Regions from separate parts of the Homo sapiens genome. Here region 2 is linked to region 1. The links come from fine-mapping of genetic effects on gene expression. A gene starts in region 1. The other region holds a variant in brackets. All regions are shown on one strand. Distances are between the middles of the regions.

Region 1 (5,364 bases):
AAAGGAGACCCTGAAAATCTGGGCACTTTGAGGATACTGAATGAGAAGAGAGGGGAGAGATTGGACAGTGGCTAACGGGTGCATGGGACTCCGCTGAGCCAAGTGGTCTCACCCTGTGTCTGCTGTGCTCCAGCTCCAGCCCCAGCCCCTCCCAGAGGCCCCCAAAAGACTAGCTGTGGCTGTTGCCACGCTCAGAAAGCAGACCTGGTGGCCAAGCAGGGCCCCGCCCTTCTCTGTCTGTGGCTGCTGCACTCAGAAAAGAGGAAAAGGTATACATGGGGAAGCCAGGGCTCCCCCAGCCTGGAAGGCTGACCTGTTGCCAAATTCCAGCTGCCAGGATCCCCCCAACCTCAGCGGGCTAACCGGAAGGGAGGCCACCCTGCCAAATGCTGCAGGTGCTGGGGGCACAGGTCCAAGGCAGGTCCAAGCCTGCCAGCCCCAGACGTGGGAGGAGCCACCTGTGCCATCTGGGCGTGGGGGCAGGGGCTATGGCAGGCACGAGGAAGTTTATTCAATGAAAGTCAAAAATTGTTTTTTACATGACTAAAACCTGTTGCCTAAAACCTGTTTGTTCCTATTTTGAGTTTTGGCTGTATTTTAAAAATGAGTAATATTATAGCTTAATGATAAAAATAGCCATCACTCAAATTGACTGAACATACCTGTGTGCCAGGCACTATTCTTGGCCTTTCATATAAAGTACTTAATCCTCCTAATATCCCAGTGAGGTAGGTGCTATTACTATCCCCATTTTACAGGCGAGAAAACTAAGACTTCCCTTCATTGCATACTTTCACCTTTTTCCTGATTATTTTCCTGCTCTTGGTTCTCTCATCCTAGAAATCCCCCAGAGCTGGAGTCGGGGAAGAGGTGGGTATGGGCCCGGCTTTTCTCCTGCCTCTGCCACCTCTCTTAGGACGTTTCTGAGCTGAGTTTTCTCATCCGTAAGGTGAGGGGTTGGCTGCAATGGCTGACTGGCTGCACTCTGACACCCTGTGGGGAGGGTGCTGACACCAGTACAGACGTCCTGGAGGGCTGTCAGACCACGACATCCTCAGCCTTGTGAGTGGGCATCACCAGTGCTGCTTGCCCAGGATTTAACTTAAAAAGCCCCGGGAGTAAGGGGTCCCTGCATTTACTCCCCGCCTCTCTCCTCCCTCCAACTTGCCTGCTGCACTCCACCTGGGTGGAGGTAGCAGAGGGGGCAGCGCGGGCTTTGGCCTCTTTCTCTCTCTTCCTTCCACAGATCTGATTTTGTTGCTTAACCCCCTTCCTTGTGGTCTGGAAGTCAGGCCATGGCTGGGGTAGTGAATGTGTCCCGGATGTTTGTCCTGCCCAGTCTGTCTGCCTTGCACTTCTGGGAGCCCCAAATTCATTCTTACAGGGAGGAAGGTGGCCATGGGACTCCAGGGGGGAAATGACTGGCCCAGGGTCACATGAGAGCCAAGAGTGGGTTCCCCCATGCTGGACCCCTTGTGTCTGACCCCAAGCCTGAGTCAGGAAAGCCTGGAAAAGTGAGTGGAGGAGGAGGAGCTCGGGGGGCCCTGTTCTCCATTCAGCCCCCACCCAAGAGCTGTGGGCTTCCAGGTGTGTGAGGCTGGGCGCCTGGCACCTGAGCTCCTGCGGTTTGGGTCATAGTCTGAGCCAGAGTGGGAGATTCAGGGTAGGGAGGTGGTGAGGGGCACCCAGGTTTGTCTTATAGGGCACTCTGTTCCCGGCTCTGTGTAATGAGGGGAGGACCCCAAGTCCTTTGGACAGCGCATCCATCTCCTGGCCATAAAGTGTGAGCGTGGAGCTGGGCTGATTTGGGGGTGTCCGGAAGAAGGAAATGAAAGGGACATTTAATGAGGTCCTAGTACGTGCCAAGCATTTTCACACACCTACATTTGATTCAATTTCCACTACAAGTGGACACTGTTATACCTATTTTACAGACACAGAAACTGAGGCTCAGAGAGGTGCCTGGAGACGGAAAAGGGTGGGGAGCGAATCTTTCTGGCGCGCCCTCTGTGCCTCAGTCACCGTGCCAGACGCCTGCCCGCGTTCCCTATCGAAATCCCCCCGCCTCGCCAGCGAGGAAGGCGCGATCGTCCCCGGAACACAGACGGGAGACCGGAGGCTCGGGGACCGCCGGACGACCGCGGCCGGGCGGCCCCTCACACCACCCGGGCGGCTCCCCCGACGGCGCGCGGCGCTCACCTCCAGGCGGTCGATGCGGTCCCGCAGGGCGCGCACGGCGTCCTCCAGCTCCAGAATGAGCGCAGGCGAGTCCCAGGGCCCGTCGGCCATGGTGTCGCGGCGGGGCCCGGCGCCCTGGAGGCCGCGCGGCAGGCCGCTCTCGCAGCGGCCCAGCTTGCCGGTGAGCTCACGGATGGTGTCCTGGTCGGCGCGGATGCGCGCCTCCTGCTGCAGCGCCGTCTGGCGCAGCTGCTCGGCCGTGCTCTGCAGCAGCAGCAGCTCTTCGCGCTCGCCCGGCGCAGCGCCCGCCGCGTCCCCCTGCTGGGCCCCCGACGGGCAGGCAGCAGCCAGCGGCGTGCACAGGAAGCGGCTGAACAGGGGCCCGGGCGGCAGCGGGTGCGCGCTGGCCGCGGGTGCCCCGGGCAGCGCGGGGGGCCCGGCTGAACCGCCCGCGCCGTGCAGCGCGCTCAGGCTCCGCTGCGGGCCCGGGGACGCGGCGGCGCCCGAGGCGACCGAAGCATTGTCGGCGCCGCCGGGCAGCGCCCGCGCCGGGCTGGCCGCCAGGGGCACGCTGGCGATGATGCAGATGACGGCACCGAGGAACGCCAGCATGCCCGCGGCCAGCAGCACGGCCAGGAACTTCAGCGTGAGGCGGGCGGCGGGGGCGCCCGAGGCCCCCGGCAGGCGCGGCGGCGGGGTCGGGGCGCGGAGCCCGGGCGCGCTGGGCCGAGCGGGGCAGGCGCGGGAGCCGGAGCCGGAGCCGGAGCCGGAGCCGGAGCTGGAGCTGTCGCCGCGGCCGCTGCTGCCGCCGCTCTGAGCCCGGGCGGCGGGAGGAGGAGAAGACGGCAGGCGGCGGGGAGGGGGAGCGGGCGCGGCGGCCCCGCCCCACTCGCTTCCCCGGGCCGGCCCTGGCCCCGGCCCAGCCCCGCACCCGTTCAGTGCCGGGCGCCCGGCTGGGGGCGCCGCCGGGGATGCGGCGAGGAGCGAGGGCAGCGCCTGGGACCTTATCTCGCCGCGGTCACAGCGCAGGGGCCGGCGACCCGAGGGCCGCGCGGCGGGGCTCCTGGGTGACCCCCATCCCAGCCCTCCCGTGCTCGGGCCCCCTCCCCAAGCCGGTTATGTTCACATCCACCCGGGAGGGAGCTTTCTTCCGGGTGGGGCTGTGCACTGGGCGCGCCACAAGCTCGGTCGCAATTGAGCCTTGCCGTGGACAGGCTCACAATAGAAATGAGGAAACTGAGACACCTGAGGTCAGGCCTCTGTCCAAGGTCACCGGGTGGCTGCGTTGGAGCCGCCTGCGAGCTTAGGCACGTTTCACCGGACCAGACTGTGGATGGGGCTGGAGTGGGAGCGGTTAGAGGTGGAGAAGAGGCCAGTGTTGGGGGTTGGGGGGAGGCTCGGATTTTGACCTAACTTCTGTTTATACTGTGGCCACCTGCCCGTCACCCCCACCTCCAACCTTCTGAAGGAGCAGAGTTCACTCCCCGCCACCCTCATTACAGAATCTTCCTGTGATCTCAGAGGATGATGGAAATTCTCTCCTCTGAATCCTTGGGGGCTTAGAGCCTCACAGGTCCAGAGAAACCCCCCACCCCCACTGCAGTCTGCCTTCGTTGGCAAGCGGTGCCACGTGCCTGGTGGGCATGTGGACCAGGCCCAGAAGGAACAGCAGGAATGGGAGTGGGCTGTGCTGTGGGGGTGGCAGAGGAGCGTTTTACTTTCTTCTGTCAAAAATGTCTATATATATTTTGTTGAAAATTAACTTTGCAATTAAAAACTTAAAAACAATCCTACTATCCTCCACACTTTATCCCCAGCTCCAATTTTCCATGAGGTCTTTCCTGACCAATACGGATTCCCAGGGCTGGAAGGGCCTTGGGAGGGCTGTGGTTATTCCCAGCTCTGTCTCCCTTCCAAGCCTGCATTTTTGACTTGAAGGGAAAGCGCAAACCAGGATCTCTGGACCACCACGGCTACCACTGTGGTTTCGAGTGTACTTCACATAGCGCTGGTGGTGGGGAGAGACCGGAATGTTTCCCAGGAAGCCACAACCCTGGGGGACGCTCTCCAGCCACGGGGATTTTGTCCAGTGTTCCCAGGCACACGTGCTCCACCTCCCTCTCTCCACACATGTTAGGATGATGTCCACCCTGTTCACCCATCTCTAGGAGCCAGGGATTTTCATCCATACCTGAGTTGTGAAAGAGGAGAGAAGCAAACACAAGCGCTGTATGCCAGGAACCTGAGTGCTGTGTGTGCGTGGATGTGTGCTGGTGCTCACTGAAGTCGTAACCTCAAAACCCAGGGCAGGCAGCTGGGCTTGGAGGAAGCATCTCATGGACAGAGAGATGGGCTGGGCTCTTGGAAGGCAAAGGCCAGCGGTAGGCCCTGCTAAAGTCCTGGGGATGCATGAGACATCGGGACTCCTGGTACATCTACACGTGTGCCGTGAAGACAGAAACACGGAGATAGCATCCCCAGGAGAAACTGTCATAGGAAGTCCAGGGAAGGACAGGAGATGCCAAGAGAGAGGGCTGCTGCCAAGAGCAGCAGAGCCACTGTGACTTGGGCACCAAATGGTGCCACCTTTACCTGAGCTGCCCCCTGAGACTTTGGGGACAGTTTGGATAAATGGGTCCAGAGGCTGGAGTCAAATTGTGTTTAAACTGGTCTGTTGATCTCCTAGAATGACTTTATTTTTTATTTTATTTTATTTTTGAGACAGAGTCTTGCTCTGTCACCCAGGCTGCAGTGCGGTGGCGTGATCTCGGCTCACTGGAACCTCTGCCTTGCGGGTTCAAGCAATTCTCCTGCCTCAGTCTCCCAAGTAGCTGGGACTACAGGTGCACGCCACCACGCCCAGCTAATTTTTGTATTTTTAGTAGAGATGGAGTTTCAATATGTTGGCCAGGCTGGTCTTGAACTCCTGACCTCAGGTGATCCACCTGCCTCGGCCTCCCAAAGTGCTGGGATTACAGGCGTGAGCCATGGCGCCCAGCCTCTCCCTTCTTCCTTGGCCCATCTCTATCCCCAGCATTCAGCATGAAGCCTGCCCAGGGAAGCTTCTCGGTGAATGTTTGCTGAACTAGTTCCTAATGCCACTGCTGGAGGCAGAGGAAGGAGGAGAGGACAGAGAAGTCCCAAAACTCGTCTCTCCTGGGTCCTGGGAGAGACCCCCCTTAATCC
Region 2 (5,364 bases), 67 kb before region 1:
CTATTCCATCCATCCACCCATCCACCCATCCATTCATCTATCTGTCCATCCGCCCATCTACCCACCCACGCATCCATCCACTCATCCATTCCTATTTTCATTCACTCACTTGCTAGTCACAATGCATTTTCAATTTATATCAGGCCCTGGGCTAGGCATTGGGGATGCACAGAGAGATAAGACAGCCCCAGCCATCGAGTAAATAAAGCATAGCAGGTATAGACACCATGACAGAAGATGTGGCACCGTGGGGACGCAAAGTGCCTATGTGTCATGGGTTGCAGCGGGGAAGGGGTTCTGGAGGAGCTGGTATCACTCTGAGCTGCTGATGTGCAGTGGAGACCTGAGGCCAGCTCCCATCCTGGCATGTCACATGTTCTCTATGACGCCATCTCCCTACTGTTAGGGGAGGGAGGAGTCGCATGGAAACTTCCAGGCTGCTTCATTGGCCATTTTGAGACTGGAAGGACAAACGCAGTGTGGACCCTGCTGGGTCAACAGCCAAGTCCTCCCACATAATTGCCATTGGGATTGTCTTTCTGGGTTCTGGTCCCAGCCACCTGGGGCCCTTGGTCACTGGACCAGGTGCATGTGTGTGTGTGGCCGCCCTGCCTCTCCTGCTTTGGCTCTGCAGGGGCCCAGTGCCTACAGGGGCTTAGAGATGATAACCTACCTACCTGGCACACCCCAGCCTTCCAGACTCCCAAGCCTCGCACCCAGAGTGGAGGCCCAAGGAAGGGATGGCCCCCCACAGCACCTGACCCAAATCTTTGATCAGCCCTTCCAACTTTAAAGCACACTCACATTCAGGGCCACTGTCTCCTGGGAGCCCTACAGTAACTTTGGGAAGCAGGCATAGCCGGAGCTGCGAGTCCTGTCTTGCAGGTGATGAAACTGAGATCTGAGAAGCGAAGTGGCTTGTTCAAGCTGGCAGGCAACCCTGGAGAGGGTTCAGAACTGTCACAGGCCTGCGGGGAACCCTGGCTCTGCCACTTAGGTTGTGGGTCTTCTCATCTGCATGAGGGGGACACTGAGGGCATCTCCTCACAGAATGGACGTACACATTAGGGAAGATGGGGTTGGTGAAATGCTTGGTGCTGTGCCTAGCACGTCTGAGGAATCTAATAGTTTGGGAATATTATTCAAAATGATTCGAGTCTTCTGCCTTCTAGGCGTGCTCTCCTTCCACCCCCACGGCCTTTCTAAGGATTGGAGATAGCAGCTGGCAGTGGGAGGTGGTTGTTTTAAATATGAGATGAGGAGAACGAAAGGAAATTAGGACAGGGTGGTGGCTTTTGTGGCTGCACTCTGACAACCCCCTCCCAAACCTGGACACAATCAGATGCTGCCTGCTTCTGCGCTTAAGGAGCTGAGCCTCTGCTGCACAGTTCTCACTCCTGCTGTGGGGCGTGGGTGGGGGACACTGGTTTGAGGGGGGCCCCCATAGCCCAAGGGCACACCCCCTTGCCTACCTGTAGGGTCTGTCCTCTGGAGAAGCAGGAAGTAGGTTAAACAAGATGCTGGAGTTTCTCTGCACCTCTTCCAAGGCAACATGAAATATTCACCAGATTTCTCCAAAGGCCCCGCAGAGAGCTTCAAAGCTGGCTGTCCCCGCGGCAGCACGCTCCCTTCCACAGGCGACACAAGGCCTCGTGACCAAGCCCTCACCCTCCACCTTCTCACACTGACTGCCTCGGCACCTCTTGCTCCCCACTCTTGGGAGGCCTGTGGTTCTGGAGTCCCAGCAAGGGGACCTATGGTTCACTCTCTCTGATCTGGCGGGGCACTCACTGCTCTCCCAGGCAGAGGGACAGGCCCTGGGGTTGGGGCCTGTGACTCCCTTTAGACATGTCCAGACAAGGTTTCCGATTTTTGCCCCACACTGACTCTGGCTGGGCCCAGCAGAGCGGACTGGGGTGTTAGTGGGGGGAGGCCCTCCTCCCCATACTGCAGATGGCAGCGAAGAGGCGGGGTTGGTGGCAGGCCTGTGGTCACTGCCTCCACTATAAATGCTGCAACTGCCGTGGAGGGTGCAGGGGAGGCCTGGCGATGGTGAGGGAAGCAGCTAGGAGATGGACGGCCCAAGGCGTGGCCAGGCCGCGGGGAGCCCAGCTGTCTGTGGGGGACGGGGCAGGAGGGAAGTGGACGGAAGGTCTGAGAATGCAGCGTGTGTGGAAGAGCAGGGACTATCCAGGCAGGCAGCCCAGGTTCAAGTCCCGGCTACAGCTGCTCCCTAGCTGGACCCTGGGTCAGACACTCCATCCTCCAAACCTGAGTTTCTCCATTTGTAAATAGCAACAGCAACCCCTAATTTGGAGGTCTGCTGAGAGTTACACATCAGGGTAAGCCCAGTGCCTGCCAAGTGGGGGAAGCCTCCTTCCTCCTGAGCCCCAGCAAACCCTTTCACCTTCAGCCCGTCCTCTCTCCCCACCCCCATATCCTCTCCCATCCACGGCCACTGCCCGGCTTCCCTGAACCCATTGTGAGCTTCCTGGAGC[C/T]CCCACTCTGCACGGGCGGCTGGTCCCTCAAACAATGGTGACTTCCCCCTCCCCACCCCCATCTCACCCCTTCCTGGGAAAATGCCAAGGCCCAGTTCAATGCCACCTCCTCTGTGAAGTCCTCCCCAGCCCCCTAGTGAGAGTCACTCTCTTCTCTGAACTCCAGATTCCCTGAACCCCGTCTTCTCTCTTCTGGCAAATGAACCTGTCTTGCTTTTCTGTTCCTGGGTCTGGCCCTCAGTAGCCTGTATGCTGGGTGGCAAGGACGGTGCCTTCTCCGTGGTCACGGACCTCTCCTTTCAGCCCATCATCAAATGCTTATTGAATGTTACGGGCAGCAAGGGCCCTGGAAGGCCAGGTGTCCACGTCTGGCATGGGTCTTGGGGAGTGGAAGTAAAGCCACCGGGGCCAAGGAAACCCCTGGGAAACACACCTGCCATGGTTCCGTCACCTGACCTGGCCCAACGGTGACCACACCATTGTCTGGGAGCAGGAAGGGGAGACTGTGAATGACCCATTTCTGGGAAGGCAAGTGAGGAGGGTTCTGCTGCAGTGACAGGAGTGACTAGGGTAGAAGGTTTGCTCGCCACCTGTGGTGCCACCGTACGGTGTGACTGTGAGGGCCAGACACTGCACAAGCCTCATCTCACTGAATCTCCACCCACCCCGAGGAGCTGGTGTCAGCACCCCGTCCACAGGTGGCAAGAGGAGGGGCACAGCGATAATGCGGTGCACACCTCGGGGGTGTCACCTGTTCCAGTTGCGGTCCCAGGCCTCCCGTCAACCTCGTGAGGTGGGTGCGGTGTATCCCCATTCTACAGACAGAGCCACTGAAGACAGAGAAGTTAGGAGGAGCAGGGCCAGACCCGAACCAGCTCTGCGGGCCTCAGCACCCACGCTCCTGCCACCCCCACCACCCTGGTTGCCGGCTGAGCCAGCCTCGCTTTTTGGCGCCCACGTGCAGCAGATGAAAGGAGAGAACAGATGCAGAGCGGGCGGTAATCAGCGCAGCTATTCTAGGCCTCGGCGCCTGCTCCCCACCTCCAGCGCCGGCCCCCGCCTCTCCGTTCACTCCCTTCTGCCAATCCCTCCGCAACACCCGAGTGGCACAGGGTTCTGGCCAGGGCAGGTCTGAGGCCAAGAAGCTGCCCCATCCGCCAAGTCCCAGAGGGCCAGGACCAGCTGGAAAGCCACCCAACCAGATGGTCAGCCTTGAGGCAACGACTGCGCCTTCTCGTTCTTGTCTGTCCCACTGCTCTTGGACCGGGTGCGCACACGGCAGCAACCTTCCCCTTGGCTGCATGGGTCTGGTCTGAGCAAACCTTACCTGCTCGCCATGAGGCTGCCCAGCCAATCTGTTGATGGATCTTGTTAGTGCTGGACGCTCAGTCTCACAAGGGTGGGACTGGGACTGGGATAAGGACAGGGCTTCAGCTCCCAGACCCATGTATCCTAGGGACCATCTCAGGAGGGCCCCTGTGTGCATGGGAAGGCGGGCTCTCCCCGCTCTCCCCACGCCCGGGGTGTTCACTTCTGAGGCTCGGATTCAGGGGACAACCCCTGAGGGGGCTTCACAGGCCTGCACGTGGCTCCTGTCCTCAAGTCACTTCTCATCTCCTGCGTTTACCCCAAGTGCCTTGGGGTAATGTCTAGTTTTCTGTCCTGAGAGCAGCCCTCTCCCTTGGTAAGATCCCGTTTTCTGTTCAAGCGTCGGCTGTCAGGCCTTACCCCACTGGAGACCCTGTACTCCCCAGGCTGGGCTTGGAGTCCCTCCTTCCTCCTGCCAGAATGCCCCGCCCTATCTTACAATGTTACTTTTCGTATGAGTGAAATGATGGGGCCCATGTCCTCTGCAGTGGACCGAGAGCTCACTGAGGCCAGACCTATGGCTTGTCTTTGTATCCTCAGCTCCTGGGGCCTGACCCTCAGTGGCTATTGAATAAGCATCTGTTGAACTGAGTGAAATTCTGTGGGCCTGAAAACATCTTTACTGTAGCTTAGTCCAGCTGCCAAGCGTATCTCAGTGTCCGTGTGGCCCCATCCAGCTGCACTTGGCCCCCAACCTCAGTGACCTAATGGTGAGAGGGGCCAGGCCATGTCCACTGGGGCTATGCCTGGGCCAGGGGCTTCCAGCAGCCTCACAGTTTAACCAGAAACATCTCTAGGTGCCTGAGCCTGAGGATACTGATCACACCTTCCCCTAACATCAAGAGACTGTAGAATGAGGTCAGTTTTTGGTCATTTTAATTGTAAAAACCAAGACATTTATATAAATAAGACCGCTGTGTAAAATACGATTCACCCTTCTACTAAAACCCTTTTCCCACACTCGAAAAGAACATAGAAAACCCAGCAGAGAGCAGTACAAATCAGCATGCGGTCCCTGATGCGAAGTCGCGGGCAGGCCAGGGTTCCCTGCGGAAGCAGCCTCGTGGTGAGAGCACTCCTGCCCAGGTGTCCCACCAGAGGCTCGGTGACCCCTCGAGAAACTGCCAGGTAGCAGCTCCCACACACCAGCCCCTGGCTCTCAACTGTACGGGTCGAGGAGGGGACGGGAAAGGCTGCTTGGTCCCCACCAAGGCTGGGGGCTGGGGGGGCTGCTGGCCCAGTGAGATGCAGTGGTCTGTTCAGCCTGGGGTCAAGTTGGGGGAAGGGGTTTCTGAGGGGTCAGCACCTCCCCAGAGGACAAGGAGAGAAGCTGCCTGTGTCCCTTGAAAGAATCATCTCCTTCTTGGGGCCATTTTCATATGACCACTAATGACAAGGACGGCCGACACTTCCCGGCAGTACTGGGGATGGCAGGGCAGTGGGGCTCCCAGGATGCAAGGGGAAGGCAGCCCTGGAGAAAGGGGGACTGGCGTGTTCC

Evidence for each region.
Region 2: its variant is fine-mapped to the expression of NPTXR in spleen (GTEx, PIP above 0.99).

Annotation. Positions count from the first base shown.
Region 1 is chr22:38,841,036-38,846,399 of GRCh38, forward strand. It overlaps NPTXR (neuronal pentraxin receptor), which reads right to left and starts at 2,993. Exons shown (of 5, transcript NM_014293.4): 1 at 2,200-2,993. The coding sequence starts at 2,823. RefSeq lists a silencer at 2,512-2,581.
Region 2 is chr22:38,773,783-38,779,146 of GRCh38, forward strand. It overlaps DNAL4 (dynein axonemal light chain 4), which reads right to left. Exons shown (of 4, transcript NM_005740.3): 4 at 4,726-5,364. Among named protein-coding and RNA genes, the nearest start is that of DNAL4, 18 kb to the right of the region's middle. The variant C/T (reference allele first, on the strand shown) is at 2,499.